Linked DNA regions of Homo sapiens: all the other regions are linked to region 1. Evidence: fine-mapped expression QTL. A gene starts in region 1. Each other region holds a variant in brackets. All regions are shown on one strand. Distances are between the middles of the regions.

Evidence for each region.
Region 2: its variant is fine-mapped to the expression of UST in gastroesophageal junction (GTEx, PIP above 0.99). The same link has a PIP of 0.9 or more in breast.
Region 3: its variant is fine-mapped to the expression of UST in esophagus muscle (GTEx, PIP above 0.99). The same link has a PIP of 0.9 or more in fibroblasts, sigmoid colon, subcutaneous fat, sun-exposed skin, transverse colon and visceral fat.
Region 4: its variant is fine-mapped to the expression of UST in cerebellar hemisphere (GTEx, PIP above 0.99). The same link has a PIP of 0.9 or more in cerebellum.

The regions. Positions count from the first base shown.
Region 1 is chr6:148,744,338-148,749,865 of GRCh38, forward strand. UST (uronyl 2-sulfotransferase) reads left to right here and starts at 2,693. Exons shown (of 8, transcript NM_005715.3): 1 at 2,693-3,340. The coding sequence starts at 3,094. LOC124901425 (a long non-coding RNA gene) reads right to left here and starts at 1,262. Exons shown (of 2, transcript XR_007059806.1): 1 at 1-1,262. RefSeq lists enhancers at 2,322-2,381, 2,442-2,521, 3,830-4,331, 4,332-4,831 and silencers at 3,092-3,181, 3,482-3,651.
Region 2 is chr6:148,581,156-148,586,683 of GRCh38, forward strand. No RefSeq gene overlaps it. Among named protein-coding and RNA genes, the nearest start is that of UST, 160 kb to the right of the region's middle. The variant T/C (reference allele first, on the strand shown) is at 2,205.
Region 3 is chr6:148,590,110-148,595,637 of GRCh38, forward strand. No RefSeq gene overlaps it. Among named protein-coding and RNA genes, the nearest start is that of UST, 150 kb to the right of the region's middle. The variant A/G (reference allele first, on the strand shown) is at 3,093.
Region 4 is chr6:148,903,357-148,908,884 of GRCh38, forward strand. The region is part of intron 2 of UST (uronyl 2-sulfotransferase); the gene reads left to right. Among named protein-coding and RNA genes, the nearest start is that of UST-AS1, 59 kb to the right of the region's middle. The variant A/G (reference allele first, on the strand shown) is at 2,289.

The DNA of each region.
Region 1 (5,528 bases):
AGGAATTGAGAAGCTAAAGATATTGAATGGAGGTCAAGGTGCTGAATAAAGTATATTTCATTATAAGACTAATAATAAAATTCGTTCACAACTTCCTCTAATTAGATTTGTTATCTGCTTTGAATAAAGATACCATTAATTAGTCTAAGTACTTTAAATTTAATTTTTTTTTCTGAAGGGATATTTATGGGACTTCAAAGAACAAAGTTTTACCCAAACAACTAAGTTTTTGTTGGGTGAAAATATAAAGCATTTTTTTCCATGTGAAACTTCTTTGTATCTTGATATCTCTTCTTTTTCTTCTGTGAGTTTTTTTAGGCGGCGAGTCTATTAACACAATCTTTTAAAGATTGACCTGTTTATTCTCTCTGAAATAGTTCATGTCATAGCTTGTTTCTTCTAAGCTGGACTTTGCCCCCTTGTACTTTCCTTGCAACTTTTTCATCGTTTTTTAAAACAACATTTATTCTCATATTTACTTATTTTCTCAAATGTTTGTTTCCTTTCTTCCTGCTCCATCTCCCTGTTCCTCAGATTCCTTTCCTTAGGAGAAAAAATTGGGGTATTTCCCACAGCATGCTGTGAGAAAAGTCTCTGAACTTCCTGGGGGTGGGACTTGTGAACACAGAGGGTCTTGCACACTATTTTATATCCAGCGAGTGTTCAGATTACAGGGCCAGGCCTCAGATACAGGTCCAGTTTGTGGAAGGCGGTCCCTGAAACATTATGAACACTGCTTTGCTCCTTCTGTCTCCTAGTCCCTCTTCTTAAGCTCAAACGTTATTAATTGGGAGTCTGTTCTGGGCTACTCATTGTACTGATTAAAGTAATTCACATTAATGGGCAATGACTGATCTACTCAATTCTCTTAGGGGAAGTCACATTTCTAAAATGTGCATATTAATCCAAATAAAACCCTGATTCATGAGATAAATGTAAAGCAAATGATTAACACTCTATTCAGGGTTTTCTGTCACAGAACAAAATATTTTCTTTTCTCTTGGGGCCCCAAAACAGCCTTCTCATCCCTTAGAAAGTGGGCTAGGACAATGTAAAATTGGACAGTAGAGTTGTGTGTGTGTACGTGTGTCTCTGTGTGTGTGCAGCACCTGTCACCTCATCTACACATCTCTCTAGCTCATGATATATGTTTCAAATCATGAACCAGAGACATTCATATATGAACATGGTTAAGACATATTCATTCTTTCTTTCTTTCTTTTCTTTTCTTTCTTTTTTTTTTTTTTTGAGACGGTGTCTCGCACTGTCGCCCAGGCTGGAGTGCAATGGCGCGATCTCGACTCACTGCAACCTCCGCCTCCCGGGTTCACACGATTCTCCTGCCTCAGCCTCCTGAGTAGCTGAGGTTAAGACATATTCTTAACGAGTAAGTTCTTTGTCTAGGATAATATTTTGTAATTTTCCACAGAATATTCTTCAGATGCCTAACTTGATGAAGGTTTTCAGGAGCCTAGTCTTAGAATCATAGAGGTTCTTGGCTCCTGGTTCCTTCTTAAATCCAATTGTTCATTACTGGAATATACAAATGAGTAGGGAGCCAGAAATGATAGGCACCAGAAACTGAGGTTTCCATTTCTCAATGTGGCCTGAACTAAATGAATTAAATCTCATCCTCCTATGGGACGTGAAGGAAAAGGGCTCTGGCTGGGAAGTACTGCTGTGCAGTGGTTAGTATAGTGGGTCTGAGGGTCAAATAGATTTGAGTGCAACTCCCAACCCAACTCCTACTACTAGCTTTGGGACCTCGGGTGAGTCACACAGCCCTCAGGTGCTACAGCTTCTATAAATAGTGATATAGTATTCTTACTTAAAGTGTGGCTGATCAGAGCAGCCCTTCCGTGGATCAACCACCCCATCAGAGGATCTATGTCTAGGATTGAGCCTTTTCTGCCCCAGGAGGTTCTTTCAGGTCCAGAGGCTTTCCCGTGGAGGGAAGAGAGGCAGCAATGAAATCAGCGTATAGGCGGACTGGGCTCTTTCCCCTTCATGTCTGCAGGGCAATGACCTCCTAGAGTCCGCTATGCACCCCCCACTTGCCTCTCTGGGCACTGCGAGGTGGAGCAGTTGTAGGACCAGGAAAAGCAAGAACAGAGCGTCCTCTTCGGCTACCCTACCCGGGAGTTCAGGCGCTGCGCCTGGCCCTCTGGGGCGTGTTTGACCATAACTCGCACCGCTTGCTCTTTTCCCATTTCAGCAAAGTCTTGAGCCTGTATTCTAGTACCTTTTATCAGCCTTGGGTAAGCAGCTCGCACGGGGTATATAAGGAGAATCAACTTTCTGAACTGAAAAAAATGTAAATAGTAAAGTCAGTCGTGCTTCTTCCTGCCGGTGACTGTTTACAAGAGGGAAGTCAGCGGGGCCCCCAAGAGGTCGCTGGTGGCGCAGGAACCGCATCCAGATTGTAAAGAACGGGGGAAGGAAAAAAAAAGAAAACACCCAGAAACTTTCTTCCTTGTTGCGAATAATCGCCGCCTCCCCCCCTCCGCCCCCAGCAGAAGCAGTAACGTGACACCCGAGCGAAATCCCGAGACCCGAGCGGAGAGGGAGGGGAGAGGGAGGAGAGTGCTGCGGAGCGCCGGAGGGAGAAAGGGGAGGAGAAGGAGGAAAACCCCTGTCAAGGAGGTGGAGCGAGGGGATGGTGTCCGCCTCCTGTTCCTCCCTGCCGTTTTTTAGAGAAGCCTGAACCGGGACAAAACACGCCGAGACCTACAGACACAAAGCCGGGGGGTCCACGCTGGCGCTGGAGGCGAGCCCCGGCGGCCGCAAGCGAGCCCGAGGCGCGGCGGGGCGCGGGGCGTGGGGACGCTAGCGGGCGCCGGACGGGCGCGGCGCCCCGTCACGGGCAGCGCCCCGAACCGGGGCCGGACACCTCGGCCGCTCGGGCCGCGGCGGCGGGGACCATGCCGAAGAAAGTCTCCTGAGCCCGGCAACTTCGGCCCCTCCCCGCCCCCACCCGGCTGCCCTCCGCGCGGCCCTCCCCATGTGCAGCCGGCCAGCCGGGCTCTCCTCCTCGCGGCGGATGGGTGACCTTTTCCTGGCACGGGCAGGCTGTGGGAGGCAGCGGAGCAGGCGATGAAGAAGAAGCAGCAGCATCCCGGCGGCGGCGCGGATCCCTGGCCCCATGGGGCCCCTATGGGGGGCGCCCCTCCGGGCCTGGGCAGCTGGAAGCGTCGGGTGCCCCTGCTGCCTTTCCTGCGCTTCTCCCTCCGGGACTACGGCTTCTGCATGGCCACCCTGCTGGTCTTCTGCCTGGGCTCCCTCCTCTATCAGCTCAGCGGGGGACCCCCTCGCTTCCTGCTCGACCTGCGGCAGTACTTGGGTAAGGAAGCTGGGCAGGCGCTAGGGCGGCGCCGACAGCGCAAAGTTGTGCGGCGGGGAGAGGGTCGCGGCGGGGACTTCTCGCGCTGCCACCGCGCGCCGCCGCCGCCCCGGGTCTCTCCAGGTGCTAAGCCCGTGAGCATCTGTGCCGCGGTCGGGAGCGCCTTCTTCCTCCCGCGCGTCCGACTGTCCTCACCGAGGCGGGGGCGCCGCTGGGTTGCGCTGCCGGCAGGTACCCCGGGGCGAGGCACCGCTCACCTTCCCCCCGCCCCACCTCCGCCACCCGGATCCGGACTGGGGCGGAGTGGATGGGTGTGTGGGGTGTGCCGGAGTGTGTGTATCTTCAGGCCTGGCGGCGCGGGGAGTGGCGAAGGGAAGGGAAGGTCCTCTTCGTTGCATTGTTAGTGACCGCAGTTCAGTCCCGTCCCGCGCCCCGGGGAGTGTGGGTGGGTTTAGCCCTTTGCCACCGTCCGCTCTGAGAATTCTGTCCCGCAGATCCCCCGCCTGCCCGCCGGCCCTAGTGGCTCCGCGCTGTCCCCGGGCTGGCTTGTCCCTTGGCTGCCGCTGCCCACCCCGCCGCCCGCAGCTAGCCTGGCGCGGGGAACGGGTTGCATCCAGGGGTTTGGGGATGCCCGAGGGCGCTGGTCAGCCTGGCCAGCAGTGTCGCCCCCAGTAACCCGAGGATCCTCGGCGCTGTGTGCGTCTCAAGCTCAAGTCAAAACTTGTGTGTGTGTGTGTGTGTGTGTGTGTGTGTGTGTGTGTGTGTGTGTGTGTGTGGTTTATTAGGAGAGAGGCCGCCTGTCTTTAGCAGAAGTAAGGAAGGGGTTTGACGGGAGGGAAAGAGCCGCTCCAGCGAGAAGGCGTGACCCCGCAGCTCCCTCGTCTCGGCTGCGGGAGCCAGGGGTGCCAGGGACAGGCGAGCGCAAGCCCAGGTCGCAAGGACGATGCTGGCACTCGCGTTCGAGCCAAGGGAGGATGCAGATCCCTCCCAAGTCTGTGGCCAGAAGAGGTCGTGCGGGGGTGAAGGCTGGGAGAGCTCCAGCTTCTTGCAAGCATCCGAAGTGATAAGCCTGAGCATCTGCACGATGAGAGCGAGTGCGGGGAAGCAGAGCCACCGAAGTGCTGGAAAGAAAATGGGCCAAATGACCCGGGCCAGCTGGAGGCTGCCACAGTTACCCCAAACGTCACTTCGTGGCAGAAGCCACAGGTCTAGATAGTAGACCGTTTGGAGAAAAGAGAAAAGAAAAGGAAAAAAAAAAAACCCAAAACAAACAAACAAAACAAAGCAAAACAAAAACAAAACCACATCAGCCAAGTTACAAATGTGTTAGGGCATTTGGAAATGTAGATGTGGATAAAATAATATTCTTTACCTTGTACAAGACCTCATATTTTAAAAGTTACACTTTTATTTCTTTATAAACTTTGGGGAACTACAGATTACAGGAAAAGTTGGCCCAAGTAGATTTCCATAGCATTTGGTTTCATAGAGGATTTGGGGCAATATATCCTTTATTAGGGAATCAAACCTCTTCTTTTCATAAGTTCTGTATTGTGGAGTCTCATAGCTTCCTCCACTCTCTGACACCTGCTAGTGCCACAAAAGTTAACAGTATTTTCATCACCAGCAGCAATCCCTGTTAACAGGCATTGGGAGGCAAGCGTTGAGGCTCAGGGTCTTTCTCCATTAAATCTGACAGTGAATTCTTGTGGAAGTTCTTTTTAAGTAATAGATGGAGGCCAGGGGTGTAGGGAAAAGTGTAATGGACCAGGATGGAAGTCATCTGTGCTCATTGTCCTCAAAGCACCTGGCCTCGTGTAGGGTACTCAGACTTCATAGGCCTGGTGTTTCATGGCAGAATTAGAAGCCACACCTGACTGTCAATGAAACCTCCACCCAGCTCCTAAAGTTTTGGGGTTCTGACACCTTTCTTGAGGAAGGGAAATTCTGGGAGGAGGAAGGAGCAAAGGTACTACTGAGGATAAAATCAAGACATTTCAACATATATTGCATTAACATTTTCACTTTATATTTCCAAACAATGAGGCCTAATAAATTTGGGTGGTCAGTTGGTAGAAGGGTGAATTCTCAGCTTCTGCTCAGGAAACTAGGAAGAACTGAAAGATTGAATGCTGCTCCTGTTACTAGCTGATCATTATATTTCTGACTGATGTGATAGGTTCAAAAT
Region 2 (5,528 bases), 160 kb before region 1:
GAGCGGAAGTTTATTTTAAAAGGCTTTAGAACAGGAAAGAAAGAAAGAAAACTATGCTTGGAAGAGACCCAAGTGGGCACTCAGATCAAGTGCTCTGTTTAACCTTGATCCTAGGACTTTCCAGGCTGGCCCCTTTCCCATGATTCTTCCCTTAGGGTGGGCTGCCAGCATGCACAGTGCCCTCCTTACCGTTGGGAGGAGAGCACGTACAGTGTGGTTAGGAAGTTGTACGCATGACCATCTGAGACTTTCTTCCCTTTGCTGGCGGTATGCCCTCGGAAGGTCATACTCCACCATTTTGTCTTAATGCATGTGCTGGGAAGTTGTTTCTCCCTGGCATATGAATCCAATTAGCACTTTAGTTGGGCAGGTGTTGACCATCAGGAAATGGCTCCTTCCTGGCACTGGCTTCCAATTCATTGCTTTTAGAAAGGCAATGTGATAACTGCCAAACCATCACTCGACATTCCCAGTGGGTGGAAAAGAGCCCTCTCCTGATCCACTCATGCCTAACTACCAGAAATACCATCACCTAGGTATTAAGCCCAGCATCCATTAGCAATTCTTCCTGATGCTCTTCCTCCTCCCACCTCACACCCTCTGACAAGCTCCAGTTGTGTTTTGTTCCTCACCATGTATCCATGTGTTCTCATCATTCAGCTCCCACTTATAAGTGAGAACATGAAATACTTGGTTTTCTGTTCCTGCATTAGTTTGCTGAGGATAATGGCTTCCAATTCCATTCACGTCCCTGCAAAAACCACGATCTCATTCCTTTTTATGGTGGCATGGTATTCCATGGCGTATATGTGCCACATTTTCTTTATCCAGTCTATCATTGATGGGCATTTGGTTGATTCCATGTCTTTGCTATTGTGAATAGTGCTGCAATGAACATACAATTATTGCATGTATCTTTATAATAATTTATATTCCTTTGGGTATATGCCCCGTAATGGAATTGCTGGGTCAGATGGTATTTCTGCCTCTAGGTCTTTGAGGAATCACCACACTGTCTTCCACAAAGGCTGAATTAATTTACACTCTCACCAAAAGTGTAAAAGTGTTCCTTTTTCTCCACAACCTTGTCAGCATTCTGTTGTTTTTTGACTTTTTAATAATCTTCATTCTGACTTGCTTGAGATGGTATCACATTGGGGTTTTGATTTGCATTTCTCTAATGATCAGTGATGTTGAGCTTTTTTTCCTATGTTTTGCATGTATGTCTTCTTTTGAGAAGTGTCTGTTTATGTCCTTTTTAATGGGATTATTTGTTTTTTTCTTGTAAATTTGTTTAAGTGCCTTGTAGATGCTGGATGTTAGACTTTTGTCAGATGGATAGATTGCAGAAATTTTCTCCCATTCTATAGGTTGTCTGTTCACTCTGATGATAGTTTCCTTTGCTGTGCAGAAGCTCTTTAGTTTAATTAGATCCCATTGTCAATTTTTGCTTTGTTGCAATTGATTTTGGTGTCTTTGTCATGAAATCTTTGCCTATACCTATGTCCTGAATGGTATTATCTAGATTTTCTTCTAGAGTTTTTATAATTTTAGGTTTTGTTTGTTTTTTTGTTTGTTTTTGAGATGGAGTTTTACTCTTGTTGCCCAGGCTGGAGGGCAATGGCGCGATCTTGGCTCACTGCAACCTCCACCTCCCGGGTTCAAGTGATTCTCCTGCCTCAGCCTCCCGAGTAGCTGGGATTACAGGCATGGGCCACCACGCCCAGGTAATTTTGTATTTTTAGTAGAGACAGGGTTTCTCCATGTTGGTCAGGCTGGTCTCGATCTCCCAACCTCAGGTGATCCACCTGCCTCTGCCTCCCAAAGTGCTGGGATTACCAGTGTAAGCCACCATGCCCAGCCAGTTGTACATTTTATATTTAAGTCTTTAATCCATCTTGAGTTCATTTTTGTATATGGTATAAAGAAGGGGTCCAGTTTCAATATTCTGCATATGGTTAGCCAGTTCTCCCAATACCACTTATTAAATAAGGAATCCTCTCCTCATTGCTTGTTTTGATCAGATTTGTCAAAGATCAGATGGTTGTAGGTGTACGGTCTTATTTCTGGGTTCTCTATTATGTTCCATTGGTCTATGTGTCTATTCTGTTCCATTGGTCTTCTTGTACCAGTACCATGCTGTTTTGGTTATTGTAGCCTTGTAGTATAGTTTGAAGTTGGGTAGTGTGATGCCTCCAGCTTTG[T/C]TATTTTTGCTTAGAATTGTCTTGGCTATTTGGGAGCTTTTTGGGTCCCATATAAATTTTAAAATAGTTTTCTTTAATTCTGTGAAGAATGTCAATGGTAATTTATGGGAACAGCATTGAATCTATAAATTGCTTTGGACCGTATGGCCATTTTCACGATATTGATTCTTTCTTTCCATGAGCATGGAATGTTTTTCCATTTGTTTGTGTCATCTCTGATTACTTTGAGCAGTGGTTTGTAGTTCTTGAAGAGGAGAACTTCACTTCCCTTGTTAGCTGTATTCCTAGGTATTTTATTCTTTTTGTGACAATTGTAAATGGGAGATTATTCATGATTTGGCTCTCTACTTGCCTGTTGTTGGTGTATAGGAATGCTAGCTATTTTTGCACATTGATTTTGTATCCCGAGACTTTGCCAAAGTTGCTTATCGGCTTAAGAAGCCTTTGAGCTGAGATAATGGGGTTTTCTAGATATAGGATTACGTCATCTGCAAAAAAAGATAGTTTGATTTTCTCTCTTCTGATTTGAATACGCTTTATTTATTTCTCTTGCCTGATTTTCCTGGCCAGAACTTCCAATACTATGTTGAAAAGGAGTTGTGAGAGACGGGCATCTGTGTCTTGTGCTGGTTTTCAAAAGGAATGCTTCCAGCTTTTGCCCATTCAGTATGATATTGGCTGTGGGTTTGTCATATATGGCTTTTATTATTTTGAGTTATGTTCCTTCGATACCTAGTTTATTGAGAGTTTTTAACATGAAGGGATGTTGAACTTTATCAAAGACCTTTTTTGCATCTATTGAGATAATCATGTGTTTTTTGTCTTTAGTTCTGTTTATGTGATGAATCACATTTATTGATTTCTGTAGGTTGAACCAAACTTGCATCCTGGGAATGAAGCCTACTTGATTGTTGTGGATAAGTTTTTTGATGAGCTGCTGGATTCAGTTTGCCAGTATTTTATTGAGGATTTTTGCATTGATGTTCATCAGAACACTGGCCTGAAGTTTTCTTTTCATTTCTTTTCTTTGGTTTTAATCTGCCAGGTTTTGGTATCAGGATGCTGCTGGCCTCATAGAGTTAGGGAGGAGTCCCTCCTTTTCAATTTTTTTGGAATAGTTTCAGTAGAAATGGTACCAGCTCTTCTTTATACCTCTGATAGAATCCTTCTTTGTACCTCCTGGGCTTTCTTTGGTTGGTAGACTATTTATTATTGCCTCAATTTCAGAACTCATTATTGTTTCTATTCAGGGATTCAGTTTCTCCCTGGCTCAGTCCTGGGAGGGTGTATGTGTCCAGGAATTTATCCATTTCTTCCAGATATTCTAGTTTATGTGCATAGAGGTGTTTATAGTATTCTCTGATGGTTGTTTGTATTTCTGTGGGGTCAGTGATGACAGCCCCCTTATCATTTCTGGTTGTGTTATTTGAATATTCTCTCTTCTTTATTAGTGTCGCTAGTGGTCTATTTTATTAATTTTTTCAGAAAAAAAGCTCCCGGATTCCTTGATTTTTTGAAGGGTTTTTCGTGTCTCTATCTCCTTCAGTTCAGCTCTGATCTTGGTATTTCTTGTCCTCTGCTAGTTTTGGTGTTTGTTTGCTCTTGGTTCTCTAGTTCTTTTAGTTGAGATGTTAGGTTGTCAATTTGAGATCTTTCCAGCTTTTTGATGCAGGTATTTAGTGCTATAAATTGCCCTCTTAACACTGCTTTAGCTATGTCCCAGAGATTCTCATATGTTTTATCTTTGCTCTCATTAGTTTTAAAGATCTTCGTGGTTTCTGCCTTAATTTCATTATTTACCCAAGAGTCATTCAGGAGCAGATTGTTCCATTTCCATGCAGTTGTGTGATTTTGACTGAATTTCTTAATCTTGCATTCTAATTTGATGGTGCTGTGGTCTGAGAGACTATTTGTTATGATTTCAGTTCTTTTGCATTTGCTGAAGAGTGTTTTACTTCTGATTATGTGACCAATTTTAAAATAAGTGTCATGTGGTGATGAGGAGAATGTTTACTCTGTTGGTTTTGGGTGGAGAGTTCTGTAGCTATCTATGAGGTTTACTTGATCCAGAGCTGAATTCAGGTCCTGAATATCTTTGTTAATTTTCTGCCTTGATAATCTGTCTAATATTGTCAATGGGGTGTTAAAGTCTCCCACTATTCTTGTGTGGGTGTCTAAGTCTCTTTGAAGGTATCTAAGAACTTGCTTTATAAATCTGGGTGCTTCTGTATTGGGTGCATATATATTTAGGATAGTTGGCTCTTCTTATTGAATCGAACCCTTTAACATTATATAATGCCCTTGTCTTTTTTTTATCTTTGTTGGTTTAAAGTCTGTTTTTTTCAGAAACTAGGAGTGGAACCCCTGCTTTTTTCTGTTTTCCATTTGCTTAGTAAATTTTCTTCCATCCCTTTATATTGAGCCTATGTGTGTCTTTTCATGTGAGATGGGTCTGTTGAAGACAACATACTGATGGGTCTTGGTTCTTCATCCAGCTTGCCATTCTATGTCTTTTAATTGGGGGATTCAGGCCATTTACATTTAACGTTAGTATTATTATGTGTAGATTTGATCCTGTCATCATGATGCTAGCTGTTTATTTTGCAGACTTGTTTATGTAGTTGCTTCATAGTGTCATTGGTCTGTGTACTTCAGTGTGCTTTTGTAGTGGCTGCTAACAGTTTTTCCTTCCCATATTTAGTGCTTCCTTCAGGAACTCTTGCAAGGCATGTCTGGTGATGATCAATTCCTTGAGCACTTGCTTGTCTAAAAAGGATCTTATTTCTCCTTCACTTATGAAGATTAATTTGGCTGGAGATGAAATTCTGGGTTGGATATTATTTTCCTTAAAAATGTTGAATATTGGCCCCCAGTCTTTTCTGGCTTGTAGGGTTTCTGCTGAGAGGTCCACTGTTAGTCTGATGGGCTTCCCTTTGTAGGTGACCTGGCCTTTCTCTCTGGCTGTTCTTAACATTTTTCCTTTCATTTCGACCTTGAAGAAACTGGTGATTATGTGTCTTGGGGTAGATCTTCTCATGGAGCATCTTACTGGGATTCTTTGCATTTTCTGAATATGAATGTTTTCCTGTCTTGCTAGGTTGGGGATGTTCTCCTGGATACTATCCTGAAGTATGTTTCCCAACTTGGTTCCATTCTCCTTGTCTCTTTCTGGTACCCCAATCAGTCATAGGTTTGGTCTTTTTACATAATCTCATATTTCTCAGAGGTATTGTTTGTTCCTTTTTATTCTTTTTTCTCTATTCTTGTGTGCCTGTCTTATTTCAGAAAGGTAGTCTTCAAGCTCTGAGATTCTTTCTTCTGCTT
Region 3 (5,528 bases), 150 kb before region 1:
ACAATTACCACCATCAACACTGTGGCAAGACCCTCCACTGGCAAAGCTTACAATGTGTCAAAGGCTCAGATGATTGTTAGCATTTTTTAGCAATCAAGCATTTTTAAATTAAGGTATGTGAATTGTTTTCTTAGACATAATGATTTTGCACACAATAAACTGTGGTATAGTGTAAACATAACTTTTAGATATACTGGGAAAACAAAAAAATTTTTGTGACGTGCATTTTTGTGACATTCACTTTATTGCAGTGGTTTGAACAGGACCCACAATATCTCCAACGTATTCCTGTATACACCTGGACCTTAACCAGTGGGAAAAATGAGCAGCAAAGTTGTCCTGGGTCAACTAGAGCTGGAAAGTGTCGGGGCTGGGACAAACCAGGCACTATCTGTGCCCAGCCCCCTCTCAGCTCCACTAAACAGCTTTTTTTCCTCCTTCAGCTCAAGGGCCACCAAAGTGAGGGGGGCTGGTGATGTCTGTGGTGCCCCTGTCCATTCATGCCCAAAACAGGTGAGAATGGAACCACACAAAAGTGAAAATGAAACTGGTGGGGAGGAGGAAATAAGGTTCAGAGGGAAAGAATAGGGGTGCACACAGGAAAAAGAAGAAAAACAAAGGGGAGACTTTCACAGATTGCCTAGCCATGGCACTGGCACAGGCAGTAAATGATGTGGATTCTGTCTTGGGACATGTGGCTACTCTATTCTGAAAATGTCATTTGCTTAAAAAAAAAAATTATCTATTGCCATTTAGCCCTCCTGGATATGCAACTTAAAAAAATCAAATACAGAAATTGGGTTATTTTCTCCAAATAAATTGAGAATATTTTATATTACTTATTGTGTCTTTATAGTAGAAGATATTGCGAGTTTTTCACCTAACGTTTTCCTTTTTGTCATGGACGCACAACTGGATTGCATTTCCCAGCCTCTCTCACGGGTAGGTGTGGTCACATGACTGAGTTCTAGCCAATGGAATGTGAGAGGAAGCCAGAGCTGACGCATAGAACCTCTCACGTTATTTTCCCTTCCATGGTGACATGGGAAGCATCCATTGAAGAAGGTGGAGCCATGGGTGGGAAAGGAGCCTGATCCCTCAGTTATAGTCAGCCCTCCAAATCTGTGGGCTCCACATCCTTGGATCCAACCAATGCTGACTTGAAAATATTTGAAACAACAACAACAAAAATAACAATATAACAACAAAAAATAATACAAATAGGAAACAATATACAGTAACAACTATTTACACAACATTTACATTATATTAGGTATTTAAATTTTTTTTAGAGTTGGGGTCTCACTATGTTGCCCAGGCTGGAGTGCAGTAGCACAATCATAGCTTACTGCCATCTCAAACTCTGGGGCTCAGGCCATCTTCCCACCTCAGCCTCCCAATGTGTTAGGATTACAGGTGTGAGCCATTGCACCTGGCCTGTGTTAAGTATTATAAGTAATCTAGAGATGATTTAAAGTATACAGAAGGATGTGCACAGGTTATATGCAAATACTATGCCATTTTGTATCAGGGACTTGAGCATCCAGGGATTTTGGTATCTGCAGAGTTGTGGAACCAATCCCCCAGGGAGGCTGAGGGATGATTAAACTTTTTGTGTGTGTGTGTGTGTGAAGTATTTGACAGGTTTACATCACTGCTCACCACTAGGGAACAAATTAATCATTTTTTCTGTGCCTCAGTCTTTTCCTTATCTGAAAATATTGATAGCAACTACCTCCTGGGGCTATTGGAAGTACTAAATGAGTCAATATTTTCACACTTAGAATAGGGCTCTGCTTAGAGTAAGCACTACATAAGGATATATTAAATAGTGAAAGCTCTATAAGTGTCAGTATTATATTAGCCTTTATGGCTGTTAAGGACTGAATATTTGTGTATCCTCAAAATTCTTATGTTGAAATCTTAATCCTCAATGTGACAATACTTGGAGATAGCAACTATGAGAAGGTAATAAAATTAACTGAGGTCACACATATGGGTCCCTAATCTGATAGGTCTGGTACCTTTTTTTAAATTTTTTTTTTGAGATGGAGTCTCGCTCTGTTGCCCAGGCTGGAGTGCAATGGTGCGATCTCAGCTCACTGCAACCTCTGCCTCCCAGGCTCAAGTGATTCTCCTGCCTCAGACTCCCGAGTAGCTGGGACTACAGGCACGTGCCACCACACCCGGCTAATTTTTTATATTTTTTGTAGAGACAGGGTTTCACCATGTTAGCCAGGATGGTCTCCATCTCCTGACCTCTTGATCCTCCCGCATTGGCCTCCCAAAGTGCTGGGATTACAGGCGTGAGCCACCACGCCTGGCCTGGTGCTCTTTTAAGAAGAGGAAAATATATCAGCATTCTCTCTCTGCACACGTGTGCACCAAGGAAGGTCATGAAAGGACACTGTGAGAAGGTGCCATCTGCAATCCAGGAGGGGAGTCCTCACCAGACACGAAATCTGCCAGCACCTTGATCTTGGACTTCTTAGCCTCTACAACTGTGAGAAAATAAATTTCTGTTGTTTAAGACATGCAGTCTGTGATACTTTGTTCTGGCAGCCCAAGCAGATGAACACAATGGCTATTCTAAACATTTTAAGACATTTCCTTGAATGGTAATGAGAATAACCTTGGTTGATAGGTTTTCTTTTTTCAGGATGGCATAAAAGTTAGGAGTTGAGGTTGAGGTGTCAGATGAGTTGGCCTGGGTTCAAATCTTGGCTTTGCAGTACTGTGAGACATGAAAAATTTACTTAACTCCACTAAGTCTTAATTTTCTCATTAATAGGACTATAATATCTACTTCATAGGGCTATTGGAGGATTAATGAGATAATGTTTGTAAAAAAAAATTCAGTGGAGTGCCTGGCACATAGTTAGTCCTAATTAATCTCAGAATCTGTTTTTTTTGGTTGTTATTGTTGTTGTTGTTTACTTTTTGGCGCCAAAACTCTTCCTTGAAGCAAAATCTTAGATAAATAGCCAATCCAGCATAGATGGAAGCAGAGGGTAGGGCTTGGAAGGGAGGAGACCCTCTGTCCACCCACGGGCTTCTCCTCACATCCAGTGACATTCTCCAGAGTGTCCCTG[A/G]GTCACCTCTGTGGAATCCTAGCACTGCTCAGCACAGTTTGATCATTTATAGGACTTGAAGTTCCCTAAACGATTATTTTGTTCCAGTTTTAACATTGTTATGACTACGAGAAGTGGCATGTGGCCGTGAAATGGAAGTGGAAGTTGAAATTATACTCACACGACCTTTTCCCTATGTTTGGGCCTCTTCTGACTTAGCAAATGACTTCCACCACTGCCTCTCACGCTCACGGGTTAAGCCCCCTCTCTACAGGAGTCGCCGCCCTTTCTCCCGTCTGCTTCTGCTGCATGGAGAGGGGTGGCAGGACGCTGACATGATGCTGACATGATGCTGTTGCCCTGCTGCCTGGGGCCCCATTGAGGGGTCCAGGCTCCAGATGAGGAGTGAGAGCTCATGAGATTTCATTTGTAGAGCCGGATGGCTAAGTTTCTGACAGATAAGGCCCTCAGCCAGTTACAAGGCATGGTTGTGAAACTAAATTATCTAGGGAAAAAAATGAGCCGTTCTGACACCCCCGTGCCTTCATCCAGTCAAAAGTTAAATTATCGCCCAAATTTTCCCTCTGTACCTCTACTTAGCGGTACAAGTGTAAGCCATACATAAAACTCCAGTTAACTCTGACTGGGCAGGAGTGGCTCCATTTCCCTTGCATTCAGAGGAGGCCACGTGGCTGCTGAAACCCTTAGGGGACTTTCACTCCCACTGGGATGAAATTTTAAGTCTTAACCATGGTCTCTGACCTCATATCCTCTCCGTCTCCTCCTGACCCTTGCTGCTCCAGTCACTCTTGTCTGGGGTTCCTCGAGCATGTGAAGTATTTTCCACTGTCTGAGCCTTTGCACATCTGTTCCTGTGACCTTCCTCCCAGAGAGCCACGGAGCTCCATTCTTCATCAACTTCCTCCTCAAAAAGGCCTTCCTTGCTTGCCGTGTCTAAAACAGCATCACCGATCCCTCTCTAAAATTGTGCCCTGCCAACATACAGTTACGTAGGAGGAATAAATTCAATGTTTGATAGCAGAATAGGGTGACTATAGTTAAACAAAAATGTATTGCACCCAGGAGATGGACACCCTAATTTGATCACTATACATTATATACATGTAACAAAATTTCACATGTACCCCATAAATTTGCACAAATAATAAAAAGTCAACATGAGCCTTTCTTTGTATTTATGGCTCTTACCTCCATCCCACATAGAGTATGGACAAATATCGACAATTGCCTATCTCCCATCCCCTTCACAGACATGGAGCAGAAACTGGGTCTACTGCGTTCACTACCATAGCTGCAGGTTCTGGAACAGTGCTTGGCACATCGATGCTCCATGAATCCACGCTGAATGAATGACTAGGTGACCTTAACTGTTACTCGTGCATCTGCACAGTTACAAACTTGCAGAGGCATGCAGAGAAGTGGTGGATAGTATTGGCTCTCAGCTGCTTGTATTGTGGCCAGGCCTATTGATGCCTGGATTTGTGGCCTTTAGAAAACCCATGTAGGCCCAACAGAAAGGTCCAAATAAGCCTGATTCACCTTAGCGGGAGAGTTCATATCTGCGTTAATTGTTTTAACCATGAAGTGACGGTTACACCTCTGGCCATTATTCTTGCTTGAGGAGAGTAGTTCCCATCTTATTCCTGTTTCTTAACTTTATCTTATGCTACAGTGGCTTTATACTGTGTTAACTTCGGCTGGTTAGAATTATGTTTCACAGAATTCCCTTCCCAGTATGGTTCTGAGTTAGAATTGGCCAAAAGAAAGTTGGCCAAAGCATGCTCAGTAAAAACAGATGCTGAGATGCCAGTTACTGCCAGTGGTCATCATGCTTCCCTGCTCTGCATTCAGCCCCTCCTCCTGCCAGCTGGCCCTGCTGACCAGCATCGACTGTGGTCCACCACCAGGTGTAGGAGCAACATCTTGCCTGGACTTCCCCATCAGCTCTCCACTGTCCTTCCTCTCCAGCATCTGGATCTGCTGGCTTCCCGGAATCCCTGCAAGTGCTGACTTGCCCATCTGTCCCAGTGCTTCAGGAGGGCTGCATAGGGCATTTTCCCAGAACCTCCAGCTCTCATGTCAGACCTTTACTTCCAGCTCCTCCCACACTTGTGTAAGGTTTAATCCCTGTAAGAAAGTCCTATTCCATCATCCTCATTGTCATTCCTCTTCCCTGATTGAACTTTCATTCATACACATGAAAAGTATCCTGTACTCAGCCTGCCAATTAATAATCATTTCTCCAGCATTATCAGCAGCATTTTAAATATGGATACTTTCTTTCTAAATACTTAATACACTTGCCTTCCTCTACTTTATAGCATGATCTCAATAATTATCTAATATATAATGTAATTTGTTATTTCCCAAAATATGCTTTGATGCTTTTTGATGAGATACAGACTAAAGCTTCTTAAAAATTATTCAAAACAGTCA
Region 4 (5,528 bases), 160 kb after region 1:
TATCTTTCTTTTGCTTCAAGTTTTAATAATATTAAAAATGTTCTGTCATTGAGTATAATTGTAATTTTTAGTTTAAGATACATATTCTTTATCATGTTAACAAAATATTATTTTTAAATTTTCTGAAAGCATACAGTTATTCAAGAAAATATGTTTCCTTTGTGGGTTGTGATCTTGCACTCAGGAACATGTGCTGAATTAGTTTAATTCAACTTTATTTTATAAACTAATAGGGGTAAAAACTAATGGGGACAGACAGTTTGAGACGTGCAGACAGGCACTATTTCTCAGTATTTGATTTGTTGTAACATTTTTACTGGTGACCGGAAGAGGAAATGCTCAGAAAAATCTGAGTTTGCAGGTGACTCTAATATGCAGGTGACTCTAATATTTTTTCTGGTACTACTGAACCACAGGACTATCTACTAAGCTCAGAGTCTCTGTCACCTGTAATGTAGGGGCTTCCTCCCAGGAAAATACTGCAGCCCAAAGAGGCTGTCAAAGTACTGGACACCCTGGAGCACAGAATATAACAGTGTCTTGTGCAAGCCATGATTTATCTATGTCAGAGAGTTTCTATGCAGTTTTAGTCAACAAAGACCAAGAGAGGCATAACTGGCTGGAGAACATTCAGAAACTAATAACCAAAATGATCTTGGGAGGTAGAAGCAAAGACTAAATTAATTATGATTCTTGTCAGAAGGGACATTGACTCTGGAAAATCATCAAAGCCTATAAAATCAGAAGCAGTGTGTTTGAGGTGAACACAAAACTCTTCACCAAGGCCTTGAACACAACTGTGGTCTGAAATTAAATAGACTCAAAGTGCCTCAAATCTTAAATACGATATATCAAAGACAAATTGAAGGACATCTTGTTTCTTGTGGGGGATAGTAAACAGCTGGACTTCATTTGCCCAAATGACAGTACAGGCCAAAACTATAAATCAGTTCCTATAAAAGTTGATATATATTCATGGATGATGAATCCACAGTAGATTAGGAAAAGTGCAATGTTGTTTAGAGGGACAGCCTAATATTTTGGAGTTGATGTTCTTGAATCCAGTAAGATCATTCTTATTTTATATATATAATAAAATAAGAAAATTAGCAAAAATTATTTCCAATATGAATATTATTTAGTGGTTATTGACTCTTATTTACAATTTAGTAATGCTTTTCTTTTTTGAGACAGTCTCACTCTGTCACCCAGGCTGGAGTGCAGTGACACAATCTTGGTTCACTGCAGCCTCCACCTACCAGGTTCAAGCGATTCTCCTGCCTCAGCCTCCTGGGTAGTTGGGATTACAGGCACCCACCACCACACCCAGCTAATTTTTGTGTTTTTAGTAGAGACTGAGTTTCATCATGTTGGACAGGCTGGTCTCGAACCCCTGACCTCAAGTGAAGTCCTCAGTCTCCCAAAGTGCTAAGATAACAGGTGTGAGCCACTGCACCCAGCCAATTTAGTAATTTTTGGTTCTTGTCTCCAAAGCATTCACTGGGTGCTCCTGCTCAGATTCCCCATCTTGTAAGGCTTTCCTTGAAGCCTCCACCTCCTGCAGCTGCCCTAGGCAGAAGCTCAATATTGGGAAGGCATCAGCAGCAGGAGTTTGAAGATCCTGGTCCAAGTCCCGGCTCCTACTCCTCCTAGTCCTCATCCTGGCAAAGCCAAGTACTCTCTCTCTGAGTTTTGTTTTTCTCACTTATAAAATAGGAAGTAATGATTTCCCAGTATTCTTCACATTCACATTTTTGTGAAAAGGAAATCTAGTTAACATTTCTAGACGTGCTTTGGGAGCCATAAGGTGCTGGCTTCGCAATGATGGGTACAGATGGAGTGGCCTGTTTTCCAAACCTCTGAGTCATTACTTCTCTCTTCCCTGGTCCCTGACACCCTGCGAATGAACCCCCATGTGGCCTCTTGCTCTGGCAAGCTGGTTTGATTATGTGCAGGGCTCCTCTGCCCCTGAAGCCTAAAGCCTAGTGAAAGGCAGACTGGGTGGAGACCCTGGCAGTTCTCTTCTAGGCTCACACCCTCATCTTGACCTTCAGCTCCCCTTCCTCCACTCCATGGAAACAGAATTGTCAATGTATCCCCCTAAAACCTAGGGTAGAGCAAAACCAGCTGGACCTTCCCCTCTGCCTTTCCCTGGGGTGAGACCTAGACTCCCCATTGGCTCCCTTCCCCTCCCCAGCCCCCATTAAGGGGAAATTGGGAGTCATTTACTTTCTGTACTAGCTGTGTGGGACATGAGAGAAAAATGAGCAATGTGAAGCCAGCCAACA[A/G]CAGAAGGAGACCCAGGGAAGGAGCCAAGTGGAAAACAGCCTGAAAAACCTTTGTGCCATCCTTTGAGCGTATCATTTCCTACCACCAGAGCCTAATTCTGTCCTTGAGGAATATATGATCTTAAGACTTCACCTCCTCTAAGAGGAAGGCAGCCTTGGGCTCCTGTTAGAGATCTTAGTGTGCAAAACTGCAAAGCACTTAGAATGTCACTTCTGACCTTATAATATTCTTCTGTAACAATAGCTGGCACACATCATTATACATCATACTGTTACCGGTATGCATATATTGTTATCTCCCCAGCTATATTGTAATTCCTCAAGGGCATGGAACATATTTTATACATCTTTTTTGGCTTAATGGATATGTACTAATTATGTGTACCTAGAGGAATCCTTTCATCTGGCAGTCAGAGGTATCCAGAATGAACTTGTCAGTTACGTAAGCCCCATCCAGCATGATTCCATGATGCAGTGCCTCTAGCGCGGTGCTGTAGGACGTGAAGCATCACAGGTGATTTGGAGAGGTGGATGCTTCTTGCCCAGAGTCACTTACCTGCCTGGCTTTGATCTTCATGCTTCTGCCGTTTCTTTCTTCCTCTTCAAAACCAGATGTCTTCCTCCCCTTGGCCAAAAAGAATATACCAGTGAAGTGGTATGTCAGGGCATTAATAATGAGAAGTGTGCAGACTGTAGTTTATGAGGATTTCAGGTTCTTTGATTTAGAATATGATTGTTTGCTACAAATTAACTTCATCATGGGTGAATATAGCAAAAAGTGGGCAAAAGTAACTGATCTGGGCTTGTCATCTGTGCACTTAATGGACAAGGTATGAGGGTTATCTAATTGATGTTTCTAAAGTTTCAAAATGTGTTCAGATACACAATGGTCACTGAGGAGAGATGTTATTAGCTTGACTGCCATTGTATTAGGTTGGTGCAAAAGTGATTGCGGTTTTTGTCATGAAAGGTGATAGTATAGTATTTGGGGGCTTAACTTCTGAAGCTTAGTGAACCTACATTCACTTGAAGACTCTGCCTCTTACTAACTGTGATTTGGGACAGATTTCAGAATTTCTGCTGTCCTGTTTCCTCATGTACAAGGGATCCTATTTGATAGGGTTGTTGAGAGAATTAATTGAAAGAAACCATCTAAAATGCTTAGCACAGGCCTAGTCTATCCTGGATTAATGAAAGTCTAGTCAGTTGTTGGCATGGTATGAGTTAGTGGGTTTGATGTGCACACATAAATGCCTGTGCAAATACTGAGGAAGGGTTCTAGGAGTCACAGCAACAAGCAGAGTTTGAGTTATGTAAGCCTTCAAAAGTGTGTGTTCTGACCACTGATGTTGCCATTTCAAGTTATTCTAAACTGGTTAACCACAGATGGGATTAAAGCAAAAATTATGAATATATTTTATTTATTTTATTACGGTAAGACAAAATAACAGATTAACGTGTACACAACAAATAATGTGAGAGAAAAAAAATCTCTGTTTGGTAGGATTAGTGTTTTCACTTGTATTCAGTCTGGCCAACACGGGAATTGATGCTATTTTAAGTATACTTTTCAGCCATAATTATCCAAGTAAAATCAAAAGCAGTTGTTTATTGAAAAGTACTGCATTTAAGATAAGAAATTTAGTATATTGCAGACCACAGTTTGGAGATCACACTGAATTATATCCTACAAGGAAATATCATTCTAGATACCTTATAGAGGTGTACTTATACTAAATGTTACTCCAGATCTCAGGAAGCATATGTTGTAGGGATACCACAACACACATAGGGGAGAAATGCACTTTTAATGAGCCCTACTAATTTGACATTCATAATTCAGAAGGGAGATAGGCTGACATGGGCCTTTTTCTCTGTAAAGATCAAGAATGTGACAGATGATTGTAGGAACAATTACTTTACAAAAGAGAACCACCTCATTTCAAGGACCTCTTAGTGCAAAGAAAGAAAAGGGTGGCCATTTTCTTATGGCCTTCAGTCATTTCTTTGGTTTATTTAGCACTGGCTCAGGTACTAGTTTCAGGGTGTAAAAATCCCCGATGCAGAGAACATTCTGCAACTCTGCAATACGTACAGAGCCCTAGAATGGAAAAGTGCTAACGAATTTCATGACCTAATTTAAATTCCCCAGTGTGGCTAATTGGGGAACTGTGTTTTACTGATCTGAATTGCTAATTTTTATAGATATTATTTTAACAGCTGTCCATTTGTAATTTATGTCAGGGTGTTTCCAGGGCTTTTTTTTTTTTTTTTTTTTTTTTTTGACAGAGTCTTGCTCTGTCACCCAGCCTTGAGTGCAGTGGCACGATCTTGGCTCACTGCAACCTCCGTCTCGCAGGTTCAAGCAATTCTCCTACCTCAGCCTCCCGAGTAGCTGGGATTACAGGTGCCTGCCACCATGCCCAGCTAATTTTTGTATTTTTAGTAGAGATATGGTTTCACCATGTTGGCCAGGTTGGTCTCAAACTCCTGACCAGGGTCTCATTTTAGCTAAGTGTAATTGTATATGTTTTGTGGCATTTGGCTCGAGTCAAATCAATTTTAAATCTGCCAGAAAAGTTTGTTTTAACTAGTTTTTATTCCTAGTAAAAATAGGCTCTCATTACTAATTATTTTGAGTAGGTATATATAGTATATTTTTAATTGGTGATATATTGGAATACCCTTTTAGAATAATAATGTTTCATCTAATCAGAAATCTAAACAACCACTTGGTGATTACTGTGTACTCAAAGCCAGTTAGTACATTAGCGAAGTCACCAAAAGAATCATTTCCATTTCAAAATCTTGGGCGTTTGGTGGTATATATTTTTATTTTAGTGTATGAGAAAGTCAACCATTGCTATCCCAAATGACAGAAGTTATTCTTTTGCTTATTACATTTAATTATTTTTCTTTGCCATTTAATTGTAATACAGGGCTTCTATATTTTGAATGTGTGTTAAACGAATTTAGATTTATAATTTTATATTTTAATGATTAATATCAAATTCTCTTTTTAACTCTGTGAACATGAGTCATTTGAATTACTCAGTTATGCAGACAACATATTTTCAGCTACCTATATCTAGTTCAAAACGTGCCAATGAAAGATCTGTTTTCCCTTATTTTAGTTACAAATGATCTTGTAATCAGGATTAGTTCAAAAAGAACAAAATATTTTTACAGCATAACAAAAGGCTGTTGATGATAAACCTGAATCATCCATTTATTGGAGGT